2 separate regions of the Homo sapiens genome follow, and region 2 is linked to region 1. The links come from fine-mapping of genetic effects on gene expression. A gene starts in region 1. The other region holds a variant in brackets. All regions are shown on one strand. Distances are between the middles of the regions. Region 1 holds the start of ST3GAL1 (ST3 beta-galactoside alpha-2,3-sialyltransferase 1). Region 2 overlaps ST3GAL1 (ST3 beta-galactoside alpha-2,3-sialyltransferase 1).

The links. PIP is the estimated chance that this variant, and not a neighbour inherited with it, causes the effect.
Region 2: its variant is fine-mapped to the expression of ST3GAL1 in whole blood (TOPMed, PIP 0.99).

Annotation. Positions count from the first base shown.
Region 1 is chr8:133,562,827-133,576,885 of GRCh38, forward strand. It overlaps ST3GAL1 (ST3 beta-galactoside alpha-2,3-sialyltransferase 1), which reads right to left and starts at 9,061. Exons shown (of 10, transcript NM_173344.3): 1 at 8,867-9,061. ST3GAL1-DT (ST3GAL1 divergent transcript) reads left to right here and starts at 7,746. Exons shown (of 2, transcript NR_186509.1): 1 at 7,746-8,044; 2 at 8,232-11,030. RefSeq lists enhancers at 6,821-6,890, 6,848-7,701, 7,061-7,280 and silencers at 9,071-9,560, 9,751-9,810.
Region 2 is chr8:133,484,997-133,498,596 of GRCh38, forward strand. The region is part of intron 3 of ST3GAL1 (ST3 beta-galactoside alpha-2,3-sialyltransferase 1); the gene reads right to left. Among named protein-coding and RNA genes, the nearest start is that of ST3GAL1-DT, 79 kb to the right of the region's middle. RefSeq lists enhancers at 3,485-4,268, 5,746-6,291, 12,112-12,331. The variant C/T (reference allele first, on the strand shown) is at 7,993.

The sequences.
Region 1 (14,059 bases):
TTCCTTCCTTCCTTCCTTTCTTTCTTTTTTTTTTTTTTTTTCCCACTGGGCCTTTTATTTCCAAAAAGGTAAATGTCCAATTAGATAGATTTTTGTTTTTTTATGTGGAGTTGTTTTAGGCTTTTTGAGCTTGAAACAATATTTTGGAGTCATTCCACCCTCTCAGCTAGAGAAGTAGCTGGATTTGCTTTGGTTGGGGTTTATTGGTTGGGTCTTTCTCAAGAGCTCTCTGCTAAGTAAATATGCATGAAGGGACTTTTTAGCCACTCTGGTGTTTTAGTTCACTGTGTATTCAAATGGATTTTTTTTAATGTAGCAAAATCTATTACAGTGCTATCTATTGCATTTGATCTTTTCTTTTTTTAATGTAGCTAATGAAATTCAGAGAAAGTACTTTATTTGTACACCCCAATGTGTACTTTCCAAAAGTCACTTGTAACCCTCTTTTTAATTCTGCCAAATAATTTGGAGCTAATGTTCTTTTCTTCTCAACTTTTCTGAATTATTGCAAGTAATTTTTAAGTCATATTTTATACTCCATTAAGGGCTTTAGAATCATACATGATTACATAGGATTTGTTTAATAAAAATTATAGAAGGCCATTGTTTTGGACTAAGTTTCCGCACTAGGCCCCAACAGGGCCGGCTGAGAATCAAAATGGAGTTACCCACGCTAAAGTTCCAGGTCCCCAAATCCAAACTGAGGCGGGATAGGTAGTCAAAAAGGGAGCCATGTCCTCGAGATGTGGCAACCGTGGCATGGCGACCACAGGGTCAACACGATAAGCGCCAGCATTCACACTGTAGTCCAGTTCACTCAAGCCAAACTAGCTCCAGTAAGGAATTTCCCCCGTAAGAGGGTGCACATTTTGATTTTACCTGTCCTCAGACTGAACCTTTGCTCATTATAATAGTAAAAAACACACTCCCGGGTGGAGATTTCAGATGTTAATGAGACATGTAACATACAAGCAAGCAGGTACAGCTGCTGCACATGTGCACCCCGAAGACCACCCAGAACATGCTTACTGCTAGCGCCTCTTCCTGCCTCCTTATGAATAACCGTGTAAGGCTGTCATCAAGGGAGTCTCCCCAGTAAGTCAATGCTGTCCCATCCTCACGAGCAGCCCGCCCTGAATCCTGTCTCAGAGTGTACTGTCTATTCTGCACGTCACTTTCAGAATATCCTGCCTCTTTTGCAACAAATCGCTCCATGCTGCATCTCCTTTGCTGTGTGTCTCTTGTTTAATTTCTTTTAAACTAAGGAGACAAGAACCGAGGTTTTACAACAGCCATCGACAAAACTAAGTTGTCATCTGACTTCCTGAGAAATCAAGAGAGAGTCAATTTCTCAAATAAGCAGGATTAAATTGTCAACTGGTATGATCATGAAGTTCTCTCGGCTTTAATCCTTAGCACAAAAAAAGGCAGCCTAAAGTAACCGGATGTTAACTAATCAGTTATTTTTCTAGTGTTCTCTCTAAATGTAATGAGTACACACTTTGTTGCTTCTGGTTTCTTCAGTCCTGTTTATAAAGCCAACCTCCTCTGCTCAGCTCACTGGAAAACCTATTCTGTTTGTTTTGTGGAACGAAGTGTTGCTCAATTCTAGAATCACAATAAAGCCAATTTAGGTCTTTAAATTTCTTGTCATTCTCTCCTTTGGCACTTTCATGTGTTTTAAAGAGAAAATACACACACACACACACACACACACACACACACACAGAGTCAGAAGAAATGAAACAAACATCGTCAGAATAACTGGAAGAAAGAAACTTTTAACCTACAAATATTCAAACCATATTATTTGAATGCTGAATAGGTTAAAAGGCCATGTTGAAGTACCACTCACACCCACACCGCCCTGTCTAAATCTTGACCTTCTCAGGAATCAAAACTAACATTTGTTGAGAGACCTTTACTGAATAAACTTGTTTAGTTTTCACATCAACTGTACAAAGTGTGCCTTCATGATAGAAGAGGAAGCTGAGACATAGAAAAGGTCAGTAATTTGATCACTAAGTAATAAACCTCCAATTGAAACCCAGGCAAACCTTAACACTTAAACTATTCTGCTTCTCATTAAGATGCTACTGATAACAATTGAAGGTCTTCATAATGTCTTACAATGGATCTTCTTACTTTACTAGGGCTGATAAGACACAATGGGTTAAAATGTGGGCTCCCACCAGCTGTGTGGCCTTAGGCAAGGGGGTTACCCTCCAGTTCCTGGGCATCTTACCTGCCAACTGGTAATCTTGTGACTACTCCTCCCCACCCCCAGCTGTTGCAGATTCAAATGAGATAACAGCTCTGTGTGCCTGTGTGTGTGTGTGTGTGTGTGTGTGTGTGTGTGTGTGTGTGTCTCCTCCAGGCCTGCTCCTAATCCACCTCCACCTTGTCCTGCCCTGGGGGGCTCCATCAGGGAGCTCCCTGCCTTTGGCTGCTGGGTGGGCTCAGCTCTTGGTGCCACAGAGTTGCAGAGGGCAGGACAGAGGAGAGCAAGGTTGCAGGGTTGATCCGCCTGGCTCCTCTCCTGCCAAGTTGAGGAGGGGGCCTTGTGGTCTCTCTCTTCCAGAGGCTTCTGGCAACTATTGCGATGCTCTCCTGGTTCCCCTAGCCCTTCCCCTACCGTGCCACTTCTTCTGGGGGTGGTAAATGGGCCCAGGTGCTACAGCATCCCCTGCTGACTTCTCTGAATGTGGGCACCATCTCTGGAAGCACATCTTTATTCAGACCCTCCATTCAATGCTTCCTGCTGAACCCCAGAATGATAAGATGTTCAAAATACTTGGCACTACTGGGTGTACATTAAACTATAAAAAGTAGATGCTACTAAAATTCTTATCAATAAGGCAGGTTCCTGTGCTTCATTTTGTGGGGTCCTCCTAACTCTCCTGTAACAGAGGGAGTGGGAATTTATACTACCATCTCCCAGGTGAGGAAACGAAGGGTCAAAGAGGTTAAACAACGTGCCCAAGGTCCCCGGCCCGGAGCAGATGGGCCAGGGCCAGGGCCAGGGCCCAGGAGTTCTGTGTCCTTGGCCAGTGGTTTCCCTGCAGGGATTCCCCTGACTCTGTAGAAAACACCTCAACTCCAGAGCCCTCTCTAACAGTTGTCCCAGGTGGGAACCACAATAGCGTCCACTGCAGGTGCCTTGAACTTTGACACAAATCCCATCCCTGCTGGCCAGCCAGGCCACATAGGAAGGGCTCCCTCCAGGTGGCTTATGATGCTGGGCACCCCGACCATCTTATGCTGCCCCCCACCTCCCCTGTGTGTCTCTGCTCCTGGTAACAGTGCTTTGGGTGGCTTCTTAGGCCAGGGTTCTGGCTAACTAGTAATGCTGTGTCCTGCCCTAGGGACAAAGAAGCCAAAAGTTTGACACAACCCATAGGAATGAGAGGAGCATGCTCCCCCAACACAGTCATTAGGCCTTACTGCTTCCAGGCGGATCATTCACAAACCATTTTACCTTAAAATCAGCCTCCTCCTACTTCAAGTGCTTTTCCAGGAGTTTTCCAAAACTTCCTGCCTTCAGTCAACTCCTCTGTCTCCCGTAGGCTCTGTCTTGAGGAATGCGATCACTTTCTCTTATAAACAGACTTAATGCAACTGGAATCAAGGAGGCTCTGGGACTCCCGCATGCACAACTCTCCCAAGAATCCTCTCCCTTAATCCTCCTGGGGGCCCTGCATCCCCCGCATTGCAGGGGGTGATCACCCACATGCACCTCAAACCTGGCTCACGGAAATGCAGGGACTTGCTCCAGCTCACTCAGCCGGCCTGGATAGTAGCGTCCCCCTGAAAACCTGGGCGCTTTCTCCTACCTGCCACCTGCCATGCCACCCTCCCAAATCAGCTATGAAAATCTGAGATAAAGTATACGGATGAGCATTAAAAATAAAGCACTAAGTTTTATTTTATTTTTTTAAAAAGGCAAATGCAAAGCAGCCACTCTCTGTTTTATACACGGGCATTCCAATGCTTGGAGGCTCTCATGGTGTAGGAACTTGCAGGCTGGCTGCAAGGCAACCATTCCTCTCACACAAACAAACCAGAGATCAGGACCTAAGGAGGGAAATGGGGCCAAAGCACTGAACCTCTAAAATTCCCAATTCCCTTACCTCTTCAGAACCATGTGGAACAGGCTTACAGCCAATCTTTTATTTTACTTTATTATTATGATTATTATTATTTTGCACACACAGGGCACATGATGCTTTGATATTGAATGTATTCAGGAAGATATCTTTGCTCTCTTGCAGTCTGACTCATCCATCTCTAGAACACCCTTCTGTGGGTCTCTCAAGGTGGAGGGAACCTTTCCCTTCTCCGTTCCCATTTTGCTTAGCACCTGTGTATTTATATACGCAGCCTGACAGGGTATGTCCTTGTCCCCCTCCCCACAGCACTGTGACCTCTGGGACAGCAAGGAACAAGGACCGAGTAGTCTTTCCTCTCTGCATCTCCGCACTTTGCATGGTGCTCCTGGAAGGTAATAAGTTCCCAGTAAATGTTGGCTCAACTGAAATCAAAACAACCCAACCACCACCAATAACAAGACCAAATAAACAATAAAACCCCAGATTTTACAGTCCAGTGACTTCCCCTCTGAGCCTCAATATTTTTACATTAAAGTGAAAGGGCTGACCAAAGTGATTTCTAAGGTCATGTTCAGCTTGTGGATGGGAAGCAAAACAGGCCCTGGTGAGATCACTGGGGTTCCTTCTGCAATATGTACCATTTGGGAGTCCCCACAGATGGCACCCTGGCTCTGTCAGGTTTCAGACCTCAGAGTCTGAAACTTCTGGGACTGCTTTCAAAATCTAGCGTTGAGAACTGCTAGAAAATGACTTTGCCAAGCGGGTGTGGGCTCCGAATGGTCCTGGCCACTCTTTGAGAGGGGAGATGCCCTTGGCATGGGGTAGTAGACAGTCCAGCTGCCCCAAGCCAGGGTTGTCTGTGATACCGGGAGGGTTTTGAGGATGATGCTGGCTGAAGCAAACATAAATCAGGTGGTGGCTGTCTTCACAAAGAGAAGCTTTTAATGGACCCTCAGTGACGGGCAGCAGAACTCTAAAGCCTTGCTCTCTTTTTTTTTTTTTTTTGAGACAGTCTCACTCTGTCGCCGAGACTGGAGTGCCATGGCACGATCTCAGCTCACTGCAATCTCCACCTCCCGGGTCCAAGTGATTCTCCTGCCTCAGCCTCCTGAGTAGCTGGGTACTACAGGAGCCCACCACTATGCCCGGCTAATTTTTGTATTTTCAGTAGAGGCAGGGTTTCACCACATTGGCCAGCTGGTCTCAAACTCCTGACCTCAAATGATCCACCCACCTCGGCCTCCCAAAGTGCTGGGATTACAGGCCTGAGCCACTGTGCCCAGCCAAGCCTCTTATTTTGAGAGTGAAACTGAGACCCAGAGCCTGGAATAGTTTGGGAGCCAAGTTGCAAAGTAACTGAGCGCTGCCACTGGGACTCAAATGCAGGCTCTCACAGGGCCCCGGTCTGGGCTCCTGTGACCAAATTAGAGCAGAAGAGAGCTCTCAGCTCCTCAGGTGTGCCAGCAGGGATGCTGAAGTTTCCACAAAGTCTACACAACGGAACGAAGCTGCATCTAAGTCTTATTCTAGAATTCTTTGTGACCGGGCCAGCTCTTCCATCAGCCTGTGGAGTGTATGCACACAGGCATGCAGAACTCACTGGAAAGCTTTTACAAGATGGCTGGTGGATTTTATTTTTTGCTTTCCTGGTCGCTTTTGGTGGTGTGGGAGGGGCCTAGAGTGAGGGTTAATGTTTAGATCCCTGGCCAAAGCTCTACCCAAATATAAACCCTTTGAGTCAGCAACCTTCTACACAGGAACTGACTCAAGCAAGGTTACCTGACCAGAAGCCTCAGAGTCACACATGGGAGAGGGCCCTTCCTTGGGTAATGTCAACTGCCTGCCTTTGGGTGGTGTCCTGGCTCGGGGGCTGCTTGGTGGGGAGGGGAGACAGAGATCTACCTCACCCCCAAAGACCCAGGACCTAGAAGGACTCCTTCCTGTCAAGCTCACAGACGACTTCATCCCCATAAGAAGGGCTTCCAGATCAGCGACAGCCAATGCTGTGAGCGCCACCAGGGAAGGGGGGCAGTACAGCCCTGATTACAATCAGCAAGAAGGCTGCTCAGAAGGCAGTTTCCGCCTGCTGCTGCAGAGCTTCGAGGAACAGACTCCACACTCCCTAAGAAACCCTCCTCTGCCATCACTTCTAGCAACGCTTCCTGTTTTTCTCTCTCACCCTGGGTGGGGTGCTGTGGCCTCCCAGCCAGGGAGGTAGGCAACAAAGGCCCTGCTCAAGCCCAGGTCCTGGCCTTGTCCAATCAGACTCTAAACAGCAAATGCCGGCCCAGAAAAATGCAGGGAAAGCAAACTTCAGGGTTTGTGGGATTTTGAAAAGGCAAGAGGAGAAGGAGCCCTCTATTCATTCTTTATTTAGCAAAAAGTGTACGATGGAACTTTTTTCCCTAGACCTGAAGTCAAGGTATACACATACACACATGTAGAGTATGAACTACCTATACATACACACATTCACTTAATTATATGTATTATCGCCACTCGCAATTATGCAGAACGTATTTTGGAGAATGTATTATTGGCCTCATTTTGCAGATATAGAAACTGAGACGCCGAGAGGTTAAGTCTGGCGACCAAAGAGAGACAGAGACAGAGAGACGGGAGACTAGAAGAGGCCCCACGCTGTACCCAGATATTGGCAGAGGCTGAGGGGCACGGAGTGGTGAACTCTAGTCAGTCATTTCAGCCAACCATGGGATTTCAGAAAACAGCCGGCAGGGGTCCTAATGTTTGGGGCAGGAAGGGGAGGTGCGGGAAGGCACTGAGGGACCCCCGCACTGGGCGCCCCTTCCCCACCGCAGAGACAAGCGGCAGTTTCCACAGCAGCCGGCAGGGGGCAGTGCACCTTGCCTTTTCGAAGCCTCTGGGCGCTTGGGCAGCGCGGGGTAAAGAAAATCAGGAGGCTCCGCCCGCAGCTTCTACGAACAGGCCAGGAGTAGAGCCCCCGCACGTAGTAGGTGCTCCAGGCACGTCTAGAAGCCTAAAGGGCTTGGTCGATACATTTGAACTCCATTTTAGAGACTGGAAGGGAAGAAGGGGGCGTCCGGGCCCCTGCCAGCACCTTCCACCTTGGGGCCTTGTCAATGAACACTGCGTTAGCACCTACGACGTGCCAGGCGCCCTGGCGACTATTGGAAAACCCGGCTCCCCTCTCACCCCGTTTTCCTCGTTGGCGAGTCGGCCTCGCCTCCTCCTCCCGTCTCTTCCTCTCACCACACACACCCAGCCGCAGAGCGGGGGTGGGCGCTCGCTGTCTCCCTGGAGAACCAGCTCGTCGCAAACTTGCGGGGCTTGGGGACCCGCGAGGGGGAGAAGTCGGGAGAGGCCAGGGGTGCCCGGAAACAATCACGAGAAAGCCGGGCGAATGCCTGATGCAGGGACGCGGCGAGCCAGTCACTGCCCTCAGGGTCACGGCTGACTCCCTCTGCGGGACTCGCCCAGCCCGCGAGACGCAGTGACCTGCCCAACCCCCACCCCCTTGCGCGCTTCTGGGTGCGCACGTGTCCCCTCGCCCAACACACCACCGAGCCCCGCGCATGGTACGGCCGCCGAGGACCCTAGCGTAGGAGGGAGGAGCGAGTCAGGGCTCCAGCTGACGAGCAGAGCCAGACGATCCCCACACGCTTCCTGGGAGACCCGGCTGCAAGGCCAGGCTAATGCGCGCTCCGACGTCTCTGTGCCAAGCCGGGGCGCAAGCTCAACCCCCATCTCAAGTTCAGCCGCGCTTCCTCCCGCAAGGTCACGCTTAAACACTCGCGCAGAGAAAGGAGGAGCGGAAAGTTGCGCCACCGTCCCGATTCCAAACTAACTGTACCCTCACCAGAGCGCCTCGCCCCAGGGTCACCGCTGTCCGTCCCCGTGCGCTCCCAGAAGGGGTGGCCCTGCCCCCACGCAGGTCACACACACGAGAGACACAGGCAAGTTGCTAACTTTTGTCAGATTATTTCTTGGGAGCTGCGACGCCTCACGGGGTTGGGGCGGATTCAGAGTTTCGAGTTGCCACTAACACGACTCCGGCCGTGCTCTCCTTGGCCCACCCGCGTCCCCCACTGTCCGCCACGCCGCGTTCAGCTCTCTTGTCCCGGGTGTCAACTTCACCCCCAGATCCGGAGCAGCGCGCTCTGACGGCGTCCCCGGGGCCGATAGCCACCTCCCGGATCTGCGCCTGCTTGCAGCGGATTGGGGGACTCGATCCGGATACTGTCCCACGGCCGCTCGTCCAGAACACTGGCGGCCTCCGCGGTGTCCCAGCCTGTGACCCCAAATCCGCTCGAGAGCGCCTGAGCCCGGCCACCCAGCGAGGTCTCCTCCCACGGGCGGCCCCAGCGGAGGAGATCCCAGCCCGGCGCCGGGTGCAATGTCACTGGGGCTGCTTTCGGGAACCGCTGCCCGGGACTTGGCGTAGGTTCCCCACAGAGCTCCAGGCAGCTCCTCCAGTGTCGGCCGAAGACCCCTAAGCCCGAACCTCCACCCCGACCTTCTTCCTCTCCCAAAGCCCTGGGTGGTCGCCGCTGCCAAGGAAGGGGTCTCCCTTCGAATGTCTTCCACTAGAATCCCGGGGTCTTCAGTCCCAGCTCCACTGTCACACCCTCCTAGTCCCCTCCCCACCCCTTCAGTTCCCGGGTCCAGACAATCAACCTTCCACTCCGAGAATCCACAGGAAACTGCCCGAGCCCCAACTCAGGCGGACGCAGCCCCCGCGCACCCCGAGCAGGGTTCGCCTCCGCGCGCGCACTCACCACGGCTGGAGACACGCTGGAGTTTCCGGGATTTGGGCATGAAGGGGTTCGGAGGAGAATACAGGGGTGTGGGTGTCCCGGACACTTGCCCCCTTCCCAGCTCACATCGCCTCTTCCTTCTCTCTCCGCTCTTCTTCCTCCTCCTCCTCCCTCCGGTCTAGGGCTCTTTGTCTTTGCAAAGTGTCGAAACTGTCTGGCATAGTGGGCTCCGCCGGCGGAGGCTGGAGCCGAGGAAGCGAGGAGGCGGGATGAGGGTGGGAGAGGGCTCGGGAACACCTTCCCCCGGGTGTAACGGGAGTGAAAGGCGGGGCGACCGAGGAGGGGCCGCCTTCCCTGGCCGGCCGGGGCCGGGTGCCAGGGCGCGCCAGAGCCCAGCCACCGCCTCCCCTGCGCGCGGCCCTCCCCTTCCTCCGCCCAGTGCCCGCCCCTCCCGACTCTGCGCCTCCGTTCGGCCCCGCCCACCCCAACTTGGCTCGGCTTTCCCTTGGCTCCGGGCTTCCTGCAAGCCGAATTTAGCTCTGCCAAGCCACGTGGACCGCAGCGGGCTCGGCAGAGGCCGAGCCTGGGAGACGCCGGAGGCGGCGGCTGCGGCGCGGGGACCTGATCGGCGCCCCGAGAGGAGCTCCCCGCTCTCTGGACGCGGCCCTCAAGCTGGCGGGGCTAAGGAAGAGCGCCCGGGAGGCCCGGGAGCCACTGGGGTCCGTTTCAGCAGGAAGACGGGCACGCACCGAGAGGATGGCAGTGCCCAGAAGAACTCGAGTCGGGGGCACGGTGGGGAGAAGGGGCCGATCCCCTGCTGGCGACCGGGCAGAGCCACCCACTTCCTCTAAGGGCGCGGGACTCGAGGTGGGATTTAGGGAGGGGGAAGGGAGGAGCGTGGGCTGGACGACTCTTGCGGCCAGAACCGCGTTCAGAGCCACAGAGCCGGGCACTGCGGCCGGCCCTGGTCCCGGCCCCGGCCCTGGCCCAGCCCTTGCCCTGGCTCGCCTGCCGCCGCTTTTTCCTTCCAGATGCGGAGGCTGCGGCTGGAGCTTGGGGTTTGCGGATTAGGCTTGCAGTTATTCAGCCCTCCCTCTTTTACAGGGAAGCGGGGGCGGTGGAGACTTCTTTTGCTGAAAGGCAGAGTGCAGCGCTTTGATGCTAAATGCAGTACACAAGTCATGTAAATCTGGTTTTACGGTTCTTAACCCCTTACTGAGACTACCTCTTTCGCAACTTTTCGGAGGAATGTTAGAGGAAAGAGGCACAGTTTGCCTTTGGGGTCATTGCATCCTTCCAGCGCCCCTTGCTCCAGCTGGAGAGAGATCAACCTTTTGCAGTGGAAGGGGAGAGTCCCCCAGCCTTTGTTTCATCAGACGGCTGCTGTAGTACAGGGATTCAGGCCAGGGCCCGCATGGCCGGACTTCTTGGTTCAAATCCTGCACTGCCACTCAACGGATGTGTGAGCTTGGGCTAGTGACTGAACCTCCCAGCCTAGGTGACTCTGTGCCTCGGTGTCCTCATCTGTGAGAACCGACCTAAGAAGTGTCTGTCTGATAAAGCTGTTGTGATGAGTTAGTGAATTCGTACACATAGAACCTTTAGAACTGTCTTTGACATGTAGTAAGTCAGCTGTGTAGATGGTGGGTTTCTCCAGTGTCAGGTCCCTGCCCACAGCAGGAAGATGACCTGTGCTAGAAGATGGGGGCTAGGGTGTTGGGGAAGACTTCAGGGACTTGGGAGAGAAAAGGAGAAATATTCAGAGATGAGAAAAGTAGAAGAAAAACCAGCTTTTAAAAGGGGGAGGAGAGAGAATGAGAAAAATAACTACTAGAAAGGGAAGGAAAAGATGAATAGCCTTTTAGGTACTTCGGGACCTGCTCTGAGACCTCTTGCCTGACGCCCTTGGTTTTTGATAGAATTCTAGAGAAGGGGTGAGCCCTTTTGTCTGCCTGGACACATCCTGTGGGCTTTCCTCTTTCTGAAACTCAGGTCAAGGTGTTCACTGCATCTCCAGATTGCTTGTGTGCATGGGAGGAGGGGGGCAGAGAGTTCTGCTTACATCGGCTACTGTCCCCTCCACCAGCAGCGTCTTCCAGCAAAGAAGAGCTTCTAACATGCACCAGACTTTTAGCTTTGGCTGGGAATATCGTCTGGGCCAATAAAGAGTTTTTGGATGAAATAACAAAAGTGTTGTTTATTGTATGGATCAAATAATGTATGGGAACATATTCGAAAAATAGAAAATGCTATACTCATATAAGACTATGCTACTATATCCTAGTAGATTCTGTGGAAAGAGGATCAGATTTGGCAAGTAAGGAGCCCCAGGTCATCCAGCTGTTGCACTTTGCAGCCAAGAACCAAAAGCAGCTCAGTTTTAGCTGAGTTCTTACTGTATGTATTCCACGTGCAATACTGGCAGTGCAGTAGTTTTGTTTATACCAGCATCACCACAAACATGTGAGTAATGCATTGAGTTGATGTTCTGATCACTAGGCACAGGAGTTTTTCAGCTACATTAATATATTGTGAGACCACTGTCTTACATGCATGTGGTCCATCATTGACCAAAATGTTATCCAATGCATGACTATATATGTGAATAGTGTAGATTGTATGGGTTCTGCCAAACAGTTCTGCTAACGCAAATCCCACCAAGATTCTCAGGGTTGGAGGGAGGCTTCAGGACCATGTCTTGGAAGTTCCCCTGGATGACTCCATAGTGAGATGGAAATTCCTTATTAATTGACATTGTGGTGAAACACACATAAATCACCACCTTATTTGAATAAAACATTGTACATCAGATGCATCTTTAGTTCATCTCTGAAGGGTTAACCTGGGCAAGGCCTTTTCTGAAAGCCCCACTTTCTTTCTGTTAAGTTTCTTCCCAGGTAACAGGGACAGCCTCTCCCTCTCCCTTTTTTTCCAGAGTTTTGACATTCCATGCAAGTAGCTCTCTTAACACCCCCTTTTAGGACCCTTGCCAGGGGCTGTGTGTCAGAAGTGTGTGCATGCATTCCTCTTTGTCACCCTGAGTGTATGTCCCATCACATCCTGCCAGAGAACAAGGATCATAGTCATTACTGGGAGTGTCTTCACAGTGGGTCTCCAGGGAGCGCTGACATTGATTTACTGCATGCTGCCACCTCCTACCTTTTGGAGCACCAGCAAAGCTCTCAGTAATGATGGTTAAGGAAATTGATTTCATCCTTTCCCTACCCCCGTTTCTTGGCACAGCAGAGTGGAAAGATCCTAATGGGTTCTGGTCCCATTTGGGTGATTGTGCAGAAAAGAAAAGGGCTGCACCACTTGTCAGAGATGAGTTCAGAGGTGCTGGGCACAGCACATGGTGTTTTGTGTTTTAGACAGTGTTTTCCTTAGGGCTCTTGGGACTGTGAGGAACTCACTCAAGTTTCTTTAGAAAAAAGAGTTTTAATGTAGAGATGTGCAGACTGAAGCTGAAAACAAGCTGCAAGGAGAGAGAGCCCATCTCTGTGTTTCTGTCTCCCTCCCGACCCCCACCGCTGCCCCCCCTCCCCCTCTCCGCTCTGTTCTCTCTCTGCCCACAGGCTTTCTCTGTTAAATCCTGGGGTCTGTTCTAAAGTTTTCTGCATGTTTATGGCCTCAGCCTTTCTGCATCCTGGCAATTGTGGAAATAATCTTTTCAGCTTCACTTCCCACTGTGGTTCCACCAGGTGTTTTAGTTTTTCCAGGAGAGGAATCTGACTGACAGGCCTCATCTACAGAGTCATGAATCACCAATCCAATACTGGATGGACTGCCCAGGCAGCCTGAGCTCATCCCATGAATGACTGTGCAGAAGGACAGTCCTCCAGGAGATGATGCATTAGAGGGAGTGTAGGAGACATGGTCCTGACTCTGAGAATCTTGGCAGGCATTTGAGTTAGTAAACTATTTGGCAGAACCCAGCCACACTTCTCACATGTACAGTCGTTCACTGAGTAATGACGTTTTGGTCAAAAAAGGAATGCGTATATGAGAGTGGTCCCCTCTGATGACACTGATAAATTCCTGTCACCTAGTGGTGTAGCTGGCATAACATCAACTCCGTGCATTACTCATGTGTTTGTGGCGATGCTGGTATAAACAAACTTACTGCACTACCAGTATGGCACATACAATATGTACAGTATATAATACTTGATAATGATAATAAACAGCTATGTAACAGGCTTATATATTTACTGTACTATACTTTAAATCATTTTAGAGTGTGCTTCTTCTGCTTATAAAACCAAGAGTTTACTGTAAAACAGTATTCTGTGTCATACCGGCAGTAGCCTCATTCATCTCATTTTTTTCGATTGCATCATTTTCTCTTGTGCTTGATTTAATCTCATGCTGTTTTGTTCCTCACGGTCCCTAAGCGTACAGAATCCATGGCTAATGTTGCCAAAGAGAAGCCACATTGAGTGATTGTATTAGTCCATGATCACACTGCTAAGAAAGACATGCCTGAGACTGGGTAGTTTACAAAGGAAAGAGGTTTAATGGACTCACAGTTCAGCATGGCTTGGGAGGCCTCAGGAAACATACAGTCACCACCAAAGGGGAAGTAAACACATCCTTCTTAACAAGGCAGCAGGGCCGGGCGCGGTGGCTCACACCTATAATCCCAGCACTTTGGGAGGCCGAGGCGGGTGGATCAGGAGGTCAGGAGATCGAGACCATCCGGGCTAACACGGTGAAACCCCGTCTCTACTAAAAAATACAAAAAATTAGCTGGGCGCAGTGGCAGGCGCCTGTAGTCCCAGCTATTCGGGAGGCTGAGGCAGGAGAATGGTGTGAACCCGGGAGGCGGAGCTTGCAGTGAGCCGAGATCGCGCCACTGCACTCCAACCTGGGTGACAGAGTGAGACTCCATCTCAAAAAAACAAAAAACAAAAAAAAAAAACAAAAAAAAAAAACAAAAAAAAAAAAACAAGGCAGCAGGAGAGAGAAGAATGAGTGCCCAGTGAAGGGAGAAGCCCCTTATAAAACCATCAGATCTTGTGAGAACTCACTATCATGAGAATAGGATGGAGGAAACTGCCCCCATGATTCAATTATCTCCACCTGGTCCTTCCCACGACACATGGGGATTATGGGAACTACAAGTCAAGATGAGATTTGGGTGGGGACACAACCAAACCATATCAGTGATTGAGCTGGAAATGAAATTAAAAGTGATTAAAGACCACGGAGGTG
Region 2 (13,600 bases), 78 kb before region 1:
GAGTGGTATCTGCAATCCACATGGCTCAAATCCCATATTGAGAGTTGCATCAATCCTGCCTGCATTCGAGGGTTCTCAGGGCACCCTGTTTCTTGCTGCCAGCAGGGGTTCCTATGCTGGCCACTGTCTACAGGAGTGAGAGTTTGTTCCCACTCGCTGTGTGCTTCCCCTAACTGCAGGGGCTGGAAGCCTGGGAACTACATTTCCCAGCATCCCTGTCCATAGCGCTTTGGAAGTAGTTGAGATCTGACCAGTGATAGCTGGGACGGGCAGGTGGGCGAGGCAAGAGCCTTCCTTCCTCTGGCAGTGGTAGAAGCTGCTGTGTAGCTGCCCCAGAATCTGGACTCCAGAACCTGCCTTCTTCTACCTCCAGGCAGCGGGGCAGCTGCAGATTCTGCCCTGACTTCCTGAAGCTTCGTGGCCTGTGGGCCTCAACCTGAAGCATTGCAGCCCAAACCCTGGAGGTCCCCCATTCTCACTGCCCTTCCAAGAACTTCATAAGCACCTGGATCCCCGAATCAAATCCTCACGCTTCAAGCTGCTGCCTCACTTCAGTCCACAGATGTGGAAGCTGAGCTCAGAAACGGGAAGTGACTTTTCCAAGGATACACAGGAAAAGTGCACCAGGGCTAAAGAAAACCAGATGCCCAAGTCCCAAGACCCGCTTGACTCCTTAGAAAAAACCTGCTGTATTCTACAGGGTGGCTACCCCGGAGTAGGTGTTCTTCCCATTCCCAGGGGCAGGATCTTAGGAGGTGTCATGGGCTGCAACTGAAAAGAGAGGGTGGAGCTTTGGGGGGGATAGAAGGTCGGGAGTTGGTTTAGCTGCTGCCACAAGGGGTGGGGGGCTGTTTGCGGTGACCCCCAGGAAGTTACATGGGCTGCTGAGCCTCAAGTTCCTCATCCATAAAGCGGGGGTTAAAAACCATCCCTACTTGAGGTGACTGCACAGAGCAGTAATGTGTCAACACTGAGGACACCTACCATCACCTTTGTCTTTTCTATACTGTGTTCTAAGCACAATACCGGTGCACATTGGCTGGGCCCACAACAAGCTCCCGATGAAGGTACTGGGTATCATCTCCAGCTTTCAGAGCTGGGACAGAGGCCCACAGTGGTCAAGCCACCTACCCAAGGCCCTCGGCCGGTAGGTGTAAAGTCAGGATTACGGCCAATGCAGAATCCCAACTTCACACCTACTGGTGTGAAGTGGATGGTGCCAGGCTGAGGTCGGCCCCTGCCCTGGGCCTCCTTGCTGTCTGAGCTGTGGAAGAGGAACCAGCCTATCCCCACTCCATGGTGGCACTGTGAGCACTGAGTGGGCTTTGTGTGTGGCGCAGCTCAGGGCCTGGCAGGGGCGAGTGTGAGCCCTCCCTTCCCTTGTTTTGTTTTCTCCTTCCAGCTGGGCTCCACCCGCTCTGAGTCACCCCTGAAGCTGACAGCTGTGCTCTCATGGCCGAGCCAGGCCTGGACCCACTCAACGCCGCTCTCCTCCCCTGGGTCAGGAAGGATCAGCCGTGAGGGGAGCCAGACCCGTTTCCCTCCAGAAAACATCATCCAAGAGAAACAGGGCCACAGTGAGGTGAGGCCTGAGAGGAGGTCCTGGCCACTGCAAGGTAAACAGGTGATGACAAGCTCCCTGTCAATGGCAGGACTGGGGTGGACATTTCTCTCCTTATGTCGATTAAAAAAATCAGTCTCGAATGAAGCCAGCCAGCCAGCAACTGTGCTGCCCTGAGGCTCCCTGCGCCTCCCAGGAGAGGAGAGAACACCCACCCCCAACCCCAGGGACAGCAGCCACGGAGCACAGCGTGACTTGGGCCACTTCAGAAGCCGAGGCCAGTCAGCTCCTCATCTGTAAAATGCAACAATGATCCCAGCCCCTGCTCACCTAGACTTGGCTAATTGAACAAATTAATGACTATTGGTTAGTCCTGAGAGTCACTTTCTTACTTCTTTTTTATTGAGACGGAGTCTCGCTCTGTTGCCCAGGCTGGAGTGCAGTGGTGTCATCTTGGCTCACCATAACTTCTGCCTCCCGGATTCAAGCGATTCTCCTGCCTCAGCCTCTCGAGTAGCTGGGACTACAGATGTGCACCATGCCTGGTTCATTTTTGTATTTTTAGTAGGGACGGGGTTTTACTATGTTGGCCAGGCTGGTCTCGAACTCCTGACCTCGTGATCTGCCCACCTTGGCCTCCCAAAGTGCTGGGATTACAGGCATGAGCTACCACACCGTACAATCATGTTACTAATAATCTTGAATATTTAACACATATTGGAAACAATACTATTGGTATATATATATATATATAGTGCTTAGAACAATTCCTGACCATCACAAAAGAATATTTAACATTAACATTAACATTAGGAAAATGTCACCTACCCAGGATCATCATTCCTCTGAGAAATTCAGAACTGCATATGTGTGTGTGTGGATAATGGCTAGTGGGGTTGAAAATGAAGAAGAAATGGCATGTGTGAGTTTCACACCTACTACATGCAGACCCTTTACATACAGCATCTCACTTTGTCTTGGCAACATCTCTGACTTGGACACTGCCAAGCCCCTTTGTGGATTCTCGCTCTTGCTTTCATTCTTTCATTTGACAATTACTCACTGGGCTCCGGCCATCTAGCAGTTGCTGTCAAGTGCTGAACAAAACAAAAGTTAGACAAAGTAGAATGGCTGGGTGTGGTGGCTCATGCCTGTAATCCCAGCACTTTGGGAGGCTAAGGAGGGTGGATAACTTGAGGTAAGGAGTTCAAGACCAGCCCAGACAACATGGTGAAACCCTATCTATAAAAATACAAAAAAATTAGCTGGGTGTGGTGGCGGATGCCTGTAGTCCCAGCTACTCAGGAGGCTGAGGCAGGAGAATTGCTTGAACCCGGGAGGCAGAGGTTGCAGTGAGCCGAGATTGCACCACTGCATTCTAGCCTGGGCAACAGAGCGAGACTCTGTCGAAAAAAAAAAAAAGGAGAGAGAAAGTAGAATGATCTTCGTCCTTGCTCACTGAAAGCAACATCACAGGGTGGGACAGAGGCTGAGATTATTAAGGAATCACACAAAAGACCAGCTGTGATGGTTAGATTTAATGTATCAGCAGGCATGTGGCTTGCCCCTGTCATCCCAGCTATGTGGAGGCTGAGGCAGGAGGATCACTTGAGTCCAGGAATTCAAGGCTGCAATGAGCTATGATCATACTCCAGCCTGGGGGAGCGAGACTTATCTCTAAGTAAATAAATAAATGTAATGAGCCAGCTTGGCTAGGCCATGGAGTCCAGTAGTTTGGTCAGACACTCGTCTAGGTATTTCAGGGAAGGTAGCATGCAGATGTGGTTAAGCTCTCCAATCAGTTAACTTTAAGTAAAGGAGATGAATGCAGGTGGGCCTCATCCAATAGGTTGAAGGCCTTAAGGGCAAAAACTGAGGTTCCCTGGAAAAGAAGAAATTCTGCCTTAAGATTGTAACAGAGAAGTCAAGTCCTGCCTGAGATTTCAGCCCTCTGGCCTGCCCACCAGGTTTTGAACCTGGCAGCCTCCACAACTGCCTGAACCAGTTCCGAAAGTTGAATCTCTTAATATGCATACACAAATATGGGATAGGCTCTGCTCCCCTGGAGAGCCCTGACTGGCAGCCTTCAGTGCCACGAGCAGAGGGCGTAAGAGGGACTGGCTGATGTCTGGGGGAAGTGGTAGTGACTGAGGGTCCACAGGGTGGACAGGTGATTGGGCAGGGAGTGTGAGAGCCTCCCAGGCAGGGGAAGCTACAGGTATGAAGGCCTGTGGGGACAGTAGGTGAGTCCAACGAACTGAAAGAAAACAAAGTCAAGTGGATTGGAAGACTGCAGCGGCACTGGCAGACAGGGGGGGCCAGGCAAGGTCTGGTGGCCCCCCTAAAGTCTGGACAACCTCCTGGGAGCCACAGGAAGCCCTGGAGGAAGGCCAGAGGGAGAGAGGGAACTGGGGACAGGCAGTGACTGCCTTGGCGCCCTCCCTGTGGGACAGCCAAGGGCTGATGGTCCCTTGCTCCTGTCAAATGACCCCATCCACACATTAGCTGTGTCCTGGGGGTCTCAGTAAGTCTATGTCCTCTTGTCCCTTCAGCCCTAGGGTTGGAAACAGTCCCACCATTTCCAGCCCCAGGGACTGCACCACACTTGCTGTTTCCTACACCACACTATGACCTTGTGAATGACCTTTCAACTCAGCTCCCCTCCACTGCCCACTTTGAATGCACCATTTGTGTCCTGCCAGCACCATGACCAGTCCAGGTGACCCCGCAGACCTAACTCCAAGGGGCACAGCTGACAATGTGGTCTAAGCAATGAGTGCCCCAGGAGCTGTGCCCCACAGAAAGCCATGCCTCCCGCCCCTCCCCGGACACCCCTCTGAGGCGCTGGCCACCTCAGAGGATTTGCAAGAAGCACGTGGGTCAGCTGGATGCCCTGAGCCCTGGCCTCCCCTCCACCTTGGGTAGCTGCTCTCGCTAGAATCTGCCCAAACTCTGCTCCAACTGCTGCTGGGGCACTCACCCATCGGGAGATTTCATCCTCAGGCTCATGACACTGATAGGGTCTTTGGCAGGGATGGCACCAGGGGATCCCTTGCACCACTCAGCCAAGTTCAACACATTCCAGGTCCCACCAGGGGGACACTCCAAGAAGCCTGTCCCCCAAGCTCCCTGATGACAGCATCAGTCCCTCCCATAGAAATGTAGTCAACACCAGTAGAGCCAGAGGGCAAGGTCCCCTTAGCCCGCCCATGGCTGCTCCAATCAGCGCCTGTGGCTTGACCACCGCCCACTCCTGGGCCCCTCTTGGAGTTTGATCTGCTGGGTCCTCTCCTGTTGTTCTCTGACTCCTGCCGGGCTTAAATATCAAAGAATCCTCATTGTTTGATAAGCCTGCAGACAAAAGCCCATGGAATATCTCTAACTAGATCTAGTGGCCTCTGGTCTGCCCCTCCTTCTCTCCAACTCACTCCCTCCCCAACTTATCTGTGCATGCCTGACCCATCCATAGCTAATACATTTCTTGTGTGTGGATGCCTGGCGAAAGTCCCCAGGGGCTCTTCGGGCAGGCATTTGCTCTTTGGGCAGAGAAGGAAGTTGGGCTTTGAGAGACTACGCAGTATTTTAGGGACTAGCTAAAGTGCAGTTCCAGGTCCTATGAGGGAGGTGACACCATAATCCCATTTTACAGAAGGGGATGCTGAGGCCCTTGGGTATCAGTGGCTTACTCCAGGTCACATGGCTAGGAAGGGGTGAGGGCCGATTCCTGAGCCTGCTCTTCCATGCTCCACTGCCGTACCTCACCCAGGTACCCAAGCATGCCTGCGATGCTTCAAGAACACAGCTGGCGGCATGCGTATCTTCACTGCTAGATAGCGAAGCCGCACACTAGGCCGGCTCCAGGATCTAGCCCAGGGCAGTTCACACGCATAAATCTGCTCAGGAGGAACCAGTGCCTCCCAAGACATGATGCCAAGGGCCTTAGTGATCCACAAGTGGCAGGTGAATGACAACCAAAGGGAGAGGGAAGGCTGTGTAAGGCAGGTGGCCATGGAGACAGGGGGCATAGCACTGATGGAGGAGGGCAGAGGGGGAGGGTAAACCAGGCCTGTGCCCAAAAAAGCACATGGTGGTGATGATGGAGACGCTGGTATGTTACAGAAAACAGGGCGCCCTTCAGAGGGGCTGCTGTGGGTGGAGCTGGATCGTGGAAGTCCTGAGGAACGTGGACTTGGGGACTGAAGGCAAAGGGGAGCCCGGCTGGCTTGTGAGCAGCAGACAGTAGTGATTGCAACTGGCACATCGTGGCTGGACTGGAGAGGGGTGCACAGGACACCCTGTGGGAGTCTAGAGAGTGGCCCGGTCTCCATGAGCATGACTTGGGAAGTCCGTTTCCTTTGGAGCCTGTTTCCCTGCTCCTTTCTGCATCGGCGCCTGCCCATTTGCCCCACAGCCCAGCAGTGCCAGCAGGTTGGGAGAACCCTTCGATGTGCTTGCAAATCTTCCTCTTTGCACCTTAGTGCCTCCTGCTTGTTCCTTTGCTGGGGAAGTCGGGGAAAAAAAAGATTCTGCTGAAGCACAAATAGTGGCTCAGAGTAGGCAGTGTGGAGAAGTGCCCCAGAGAAACACGATTAACCAGGATTAGGGTCACATGAGAAGGAGGCGAATATGTTTTCATATTCATAGCCTCACAAAAAGAATTTAAATCCACAAATCTTCTTATGTGTGTGGATCGAGGAGTGCTACATTTGGAGTCCTAGGATAGCCAAATGACATTAGAAGCGTGTAACGTGGCTGGGAATTCCAGGGGTTGCACTATGCGCGCACCCAGGCTCACACCTGTCCCAGAAGAAAGGATTTCCCCCCATTTGGGTGGTGCTGGAGGCTGATAAAGAAGAGACAATTCAGAGCTCCTAATGCCCCTTACACCTGCCCTCAGGCATCTGTCGCTGGTTCTAAAACCCTCAGCATAAAGGAAGGGCTGGAGGTGTGGCCGCTCTGGAGCCGAGATTCACAGTCTGACACGTGGCTTAAAGAGGCCCCTTTCTCCCTAGTCCGTGACTTCACGGAAATATTTTAATGCTACTGATTTTCAGGGGCATCCAGGAGGTGCCTGAAGGAGCTGAGGGGCAGCCTCTAGCAGTGTCCCTAATGGGGATTAAGATCACGTTATAAACCCAGCTACTACAATGGCGAGGCATGCAGCACCCTCCAGGGTTCCGGGATGGGTGGGAGCGTCAGGCGACAGCAGGCATTTCGCATGAACCATCCCATCCCTACACACTGAAGGTTGGAGGGGTGTCACGGTGTCCAGTTGGATCACAGGATTAAACTGCCCTGGCCCAGGCTCAGCCCCACCCCCATACCTGGGCCCCAGAGGAGAGGAAGAGTAGCTCTCATCAGAAAGGGCCCAGCAGTCAGGAAAGGAGGGAGACCTTGCCCTCTTGACCAGGGGCTGCCAAGCTGTCCAGTGGGAGGAGCGAAAACATGGGTGGCCGGAGCATATGGGCAAGGATCGGCACCACGGGGTCAGGGCATGCTCAGAGCAGCTGAGGCCTGGCAGCCCTGGTGAGGCTCGGGATGGACGATACGAGGGGACACTGGGCAGCTTGGACCAGCAGAGGCCCAGCAAGCAGGTGGGAGAACAGAGGCCAGTTCTGACCAGGAGGCATTCCCAGAGCCTGTCCCTGGGGGTCAGGAGGCGTGGACCATGGAGAGACTGAGATACTAGTATTGATGTCTCCCCAAGTGCACCCCCAGCTCATGAGTCCTGGAGATGGCTGGGGAAGAAAGCACTGGGTCCTGTCCCTAAAGTGCACCAACTCTGTGCCAGGCTCCAAGTCAGCACTTCTCTTAGGTTGCTTGTTTGACCTCAACAGCTTTACCAAGGGGTGGTATGTTCTCTTTCAAAGTGAAGAAATGGGGCCAGGCGTGGTGGCTCAAGCCTGTAATCCTAGCACTTTGGGAGGCTGCAGCAGGTGGATCACTTGAGGTCAGGATTTCCGAGACCAGCCTGGCCAACATGGTGAAACCCTGTCTTTACTGAAAATACAAAAATTATCTGGGCGTAGTGGCATGTGCCTGTAATCCCAGATACTGGGGAGGCTGAGGCATGAGAATTGCTTGAACCTGGGAGGTGGAGGTTGTAGTGAGCTGAGATCGCACCACTGCACTCCAGCCTGGGTGACAGAGCAAAACTCTGTCTCAAAAAAATAAGATAAAAGGTGATCCAAACAGCCCGGCTCCAGAGGCCCAGCTCTTCATGCTAAGAATCTACCTTTCGGCCTCAGCTGGTCTCTCTGGATGGCGCCCATACCCCACCTCGGGGAGCGTCCATGCGGCAGGGGGAGTTCACCTCCACTCAGCCCTACTCTGCCCACTCTCCCCACAAAGTGATCACGAGTGCTCCTCACCCTCCGTCCAATAAGGAGGCGACTCTGGCAGGAGAGATAAACTGAGCTACGCCGAATGAC[C/T]GCTGGGAATGGCCAAACACCCTCATGGCCAGAGGTGCTAGAGACAGCTCTGTCCCAGCTCTGTCTGAGCTGGCCACCAGGTAGGCATCCAACACTGGGAGTGTGCCTCCCATCCCACACTGCAGTCCTTTCCGGGACCTCCCAGGGGTGGGAGGACTGGACGCACTGTCCCCAGCTGATCATTAGAAGGCCTCCCACATAGGGAACACAGCATTTTAAAAACATCTTGTTCTGCTCAACTTTAAAACACACAAGTCTCATTTTATCTCCTCCCACAATGCAGTGATAAGAGGTGGGCCTTGCCAAGGCTGGCTGTACTGCTTGGGTCTTGGAGAGAAACGAAGACTGGAAGGGCAGGAGGTCTAGGGACGGCGATGGCAGAATGTGCCCAGCACTGGCTAGAGACCGCCATCTGAATTCCAGCTGTAATGCTTGGCCAGCTGGCTGAGCATCCTGGGGTGGGTGGAGGGTGCACATGAGTTTGCATGTGGGGGATGCTGTGTATAAGCCTCAGCTCCCTTCAGATGTACAGAATGGGGCAGGAGGAAGAAACATGATCTAAAGAAAAACCACCCTGACTGGGCGTGGTGGCTCATGCCTGTAATCCCAACATTTTGGGAGACCCAGGCAGGTGGACCACAAGGTCAGGAGTTTGAGACCGGCCTGGCCAATATGGCGAAATCCTGTCTCCACTAGAAATATAAAAAATTAGCCAGGCATGGTGGCATGTGCCTGTAGTCCCAGCTACTCGGGAGGCTAAGGCAGGAGAATCACTTGAACCTGGGAGGTGGAGGTTGCAGTGAGCTGAGATCACGCCACTGCACTCCAGCCTGGGCGACAGAGCAAGACTCTGTATCAGGAAAAAAAAAAAAAAAGAGAGAGAGAGGCCACCCTAGCTATTTTCTCTTGCCTCTCTGGGGTTCTGACTCTTTTCACCTTCTTCTCTCTCCTTCTCCCCTAAATGACCAACACCACCCTTTATCCAGGAAGACGCTGGCAGGCACATTTTGCAAGCATGTCTGAGTGTGTGTGTGTTATGCACTAGAGCTACAAAGCAAACATTAATAGCTTCTCAGTGAAGAAAAGGGATAATCAAAAACCTAGAAGGATAAATTATTAGGAAGAATTTGCTGTTTCTTATTAACGCAGAGAATAAGCACAGGGTCTTCAGATTCAATTTCTATTTACAAGACCCCACAATATGCCTGGGAAGCAATGTTCTCCCTATTTTGCAGGTAAGACATGCAGGCTGAGAGAATAAGAGCCTTCTGATACACTGTGCCCTGGAATCTGTTCCAAGATTCTCATTCCTATTTGTTGACTGAGGCTCAGCTTCTGAAAGTATGGACTGAGTTATCATTCCCCTTCAAACTCAGAAGAGTTCCCTCTGAGCTCAGGCTTTGTGCACAAAAAGCAGTGAGATCTTTCCCACTTTACAACACTCCTGACCCAGGAATCTCATGTCTTCTGCCAGGATCCATGAAACACTAACAGGCTAACTTGTTAGTAGCAGCAGGATAAAAGCAAATCCCAGACCTTGCAGCCTCTCCTGGCCTCTTCCATGCTATTTTCTGCTTATGCCCCTACCTACCTGAAGCCTCCAGTGGGTTCTCTGCACACCCACAATGCAATCCAAGGCTCTCACCAAGGCCTGCAAGATCCTACATGAACTGGTCCCTGCCTACTCTCTGATTCCATTTTCCACGACTTTTCCTTGCTCACTCCAGCTCAGCCTCCATGCTGTCCCTCAAGCAGGCCAAGCACAGGACCTACACACAGCCTATCTGCTCTGCCCAGAATGCTCTTCCCACAGGTAGTAAGGTCATTCCTTTACTCAATTCAGGGTGCTGGGTCACATGGCAAATCCTTGCAGCAACTGTCCCTGAACCATGATGTGTATCGGCCTCTGCGTTTTTCCTCTATTCTTTTTTTTTTTTTTTTTTTTTTTGAGACAGAGTCTCGCTCTGTCACCCAGGCTGGAGTGCAGTGGCACGACCTTGGCTCACTGCAACCTTCACCTCCTGGGTTCAAGCAATTTTCCTGCTTCAGCCTCCTGAGTAGCTGGGACTACAGGTGTGTGCCACCACGCCCAGCTAATTTTTTGTGTTTTTAGTAGAGATGGGGTTTCACTATATTAGCCAGGATGGTCTCCATCTCCTGACCTGGTGATCCGCCTGCCTCAGCCTCCCAAAGTGCTGGGATTACAGGCATGAGCCACCGTGCCCAGCCTCCTCTATTCTTTTCCACACACATGACTAACTGGCATTGCATACTTAATACATAGCTGAAAGGATTCCCCGTGCAACTAAGTTTCTTGAACTCAAGGGCTTTCTTAGTTCACTACTGTGTTCCCAGACGAGTGACCCTACACTCTCTTTCACAGTCACCTGGAAAGTAGGCATTATCCCCATCTTATAGAAGAGGAAACTGAGGCTGAGAAGTTCAGCCATTGCAATTTACCCAATTTCGCACTTAATTTCGCACTTAAATTGTTAGACGTAGGATTCAAATCCAGACATGTGCAATGCTAATGCATTGTTTGGAGACACTTCTCCATGAGTTTCTTGCATTCCTACACATCTTGCTGGGTAGACAAAGAATGCAAGGCTCTGACTGCTCTGTACCTGGGTTGGGTTTGCAGCAACCAATCCTGAGACATGAGGTAATGTTTCTCTCTGAGACAAAAAGCTGGCTTGCTTGCTGTCTGCCACAAGATGGTGGATACCCCAAGCTCGGTGTTCCTGTCCTATATCGTAACCCATAGCATGTGTGGCATCTATATGGGCGTTCTGCCTGCTCGTCATGACACTTAGTGGGTGAAGGGGAGCAGACACAAAAGCTCATGCTGCTTTTGAACTGCGAATAATAAAGTCAAGAACTTTCTGGAGTTTAACCAAATAGAGAAAGTGGTCAGGTTGCGCCTGAACTGCTGTGGAGGGCACACGCTGTGTCTTATTTAGTCTTAGTAATCTCGGTATGTGCCCCTGGCCCCAGGCCCTCATAAGCACTTGTTTAATTGACAGACGGACAGATGGATAACCCAGTAGTGCTGAATGATGATGGGCTTGCTGGTCAACCACTGAGCTGCCTGCTCCTTGGAGGGAGGCTACAGGGCTGGGCTCCGAGTCACACAGCGCAGGAGTTTTTTGAGCCTTTCTTAAGAGAACCCTTCAGGAGCTTACAGGCCAGAAATCAGATAAAATTGCATCCTGAGTATTATTTTTCCAGCTGAGTAAGATGCAGTTAATGGAAGGCTTAATACATACTTCTGAGCCCTGCGGAAAGAGAGACATTCTGCTGCTTCTGGAAATGAGTTTCTGGTTCTGCAGCCACAGGTCTCAGGTGAAGGAGAGGTGAGAATGGGCTGAAGCTCCAGTCTATATGTGCAAGACAGGATCACCAAGGTACTGCCCTTCCTTCCTAGGACATCTCTTTGCTAAGAGCCAGAGGTCTACAAAATCAAAGGGGAGCTGACAGAAGCCCCGTCCCCATGCCTGGCTACTACCTGCCTTAGAAGCAAAGGTTGTAGCATTTCCAGATCACAGAGGAACACACAGATGACCACACCTTTCTGTTCCATTTTCAGAGTCTCCAGGAGGGGGCGTGACTTGCCCAAGGTTGTACACTGGCTGAGGTGGCACTAAGATGAGACCACAGCACCTGAGGAGACACCTGGCCCTGCTGTGGAGCCCAGGGTTCTGGTTCCTAGAGCGCCTGGAGCCTCGGAGCAACTTTCCTGAGACGGGGACCAGGGCCTCTCTCGGCCATAATGGGCTCAATCCTGAACTCAGGTATGCTGATGCTCTGGGATTGTCCAGGCCACGGCACCCAAGGGGGATGGGGCTGTTTTTCCCAAATACCACCCCTCTTCCGAGTTCTTGGCCCCAGGAGCCCTTCTTTTTTAACAACTCACAAATCTATGTGAGCAAAATAAAAACAGAAAACAAAGTCAGAGAGAACCTGGGGTCCCTAACTTCTCAGCACGTCTCTTCCAGCACACCCAGCCCCATGAACTGCTCCCCCAGGCTGGTGCCAATACCACCCTGTGATGAAGGAGGGACCTGAGCCCGCACACAGGGGCCTGAGCCTAATGGCTGTGCCAAGACAGAGGTCTGTCAGCCACTGCACCCCTACCTGGGCCCTGTCTGCCTGCTGCACCTCCCTCCCTGAGCTCAGCACAAGGTCAGCAGTGTAGTTGCCAAAACTGTTTCTTCTGCTATTTCTGTGGTTTTTGAATCCGGATTCCTGCCCTGCCTGGAAAGACGGGCCTGACACAGTGGACTGCAGTGTGCTGTGAACTCACAGCCTTAGTTAAAGAAGGCATTTTGAGAACACATGCAAAGCAAGAAGACAAAACCATTGCAAACTTCACCAAACACAGAAATTGTGCAAAGAGGATTAAGGACTAAGACAAGTAGTTTCCTATTAGAGATACACCTTTCTTCTCTCCCATGCAATTTTGTTGGAATTTTTTTTTTTTTTTTTTTTTTTTTTTTTTGTGAGACGGAGTCTCGCTCTTTTGCCCAGGCTGGAGTGCACGGGCGCAATCTCGGCTAACTGCAACCTCCGTGCCTCCTGGGTTCAAGCAATTCTCCTGCCTCAGCCTCCCGAGTAGCTGGGATTACAGGAGCCCGCCACCATGCCTGGCTAATTTTTGTATTTTTAGTAGAGATAGGGTTTCACCATGTTGGCCAGGCTGGTCTTGAACTCCGGACCTCAGGTGATCCGCCTGCCTCGGCCTCCCAATGTGCTAGGATTACAGGCATGAACCACCATGCCCAGCGGATTTTTCTTGCTACACAACCCCCACCCCACTGCCACATTCCTGCAGACACTTGGAGGTAACTAAGGAAGGGATACTAGAGGTGAGCAGCCACTGTGATGGTAGTGGGGTATGGGAGCAAACACCCAGAGAATCAAACTCAAAGAGCGGGATGTTACACCAAGCACACTCCCTGCCCCAGGGCCTTTGCACCTGCTGTTCCCTCTACCAAAACTGTTCCTACCCCAGAATCCATATGGCTTGCTCACTCACTGCATTCACGTTTCTGTCCAAATGCCTTCCTTGGAGAAGCCTTCCCTGGTCACCCTAAAATCGCTGTCTCTGCCACTTGTTCTGTGGCATTCCCCTTCACAGCCTTCATCAGGAACTGGCGCTCGACAGTGGACTGAATGTCTGTCCCTCTGTCTTCCCCCGCCAGAAGGCAGGCAGTTCATCCGACTCCCTGACTGCTGTGTGCCTGCTGGGAGCAGTGGTAGGCCCTCAATGAGTACATGTGGACTGCAGGGACAGTGAGCTGTGAAACAGCAAAGCGCTCAGCACTCAGGGAGCAAAGATTCATTTTGATTTGTGCCTCCCAAGAGGTGGGGGTGTGGTTGTTTCTGGGCCTCAGTGTCCTTATCTGGAAAATGGGATGATTATAATGAAACTTCCAATGAGCCCTGCCCATGAACAGCCAGGGCTGGTGTCCAGCTAGGGCAGGTGCCCTCAGATCTGTCAACCTCGTGTTTGGAGGGTTTTTTTTTTCTCTAGCTGAGCTCTGCTTGTCCCTGACTGAGCAGACCAACTATCCTCAAAGAAGGGAAGGTAGAACTCAGCCCACAGACT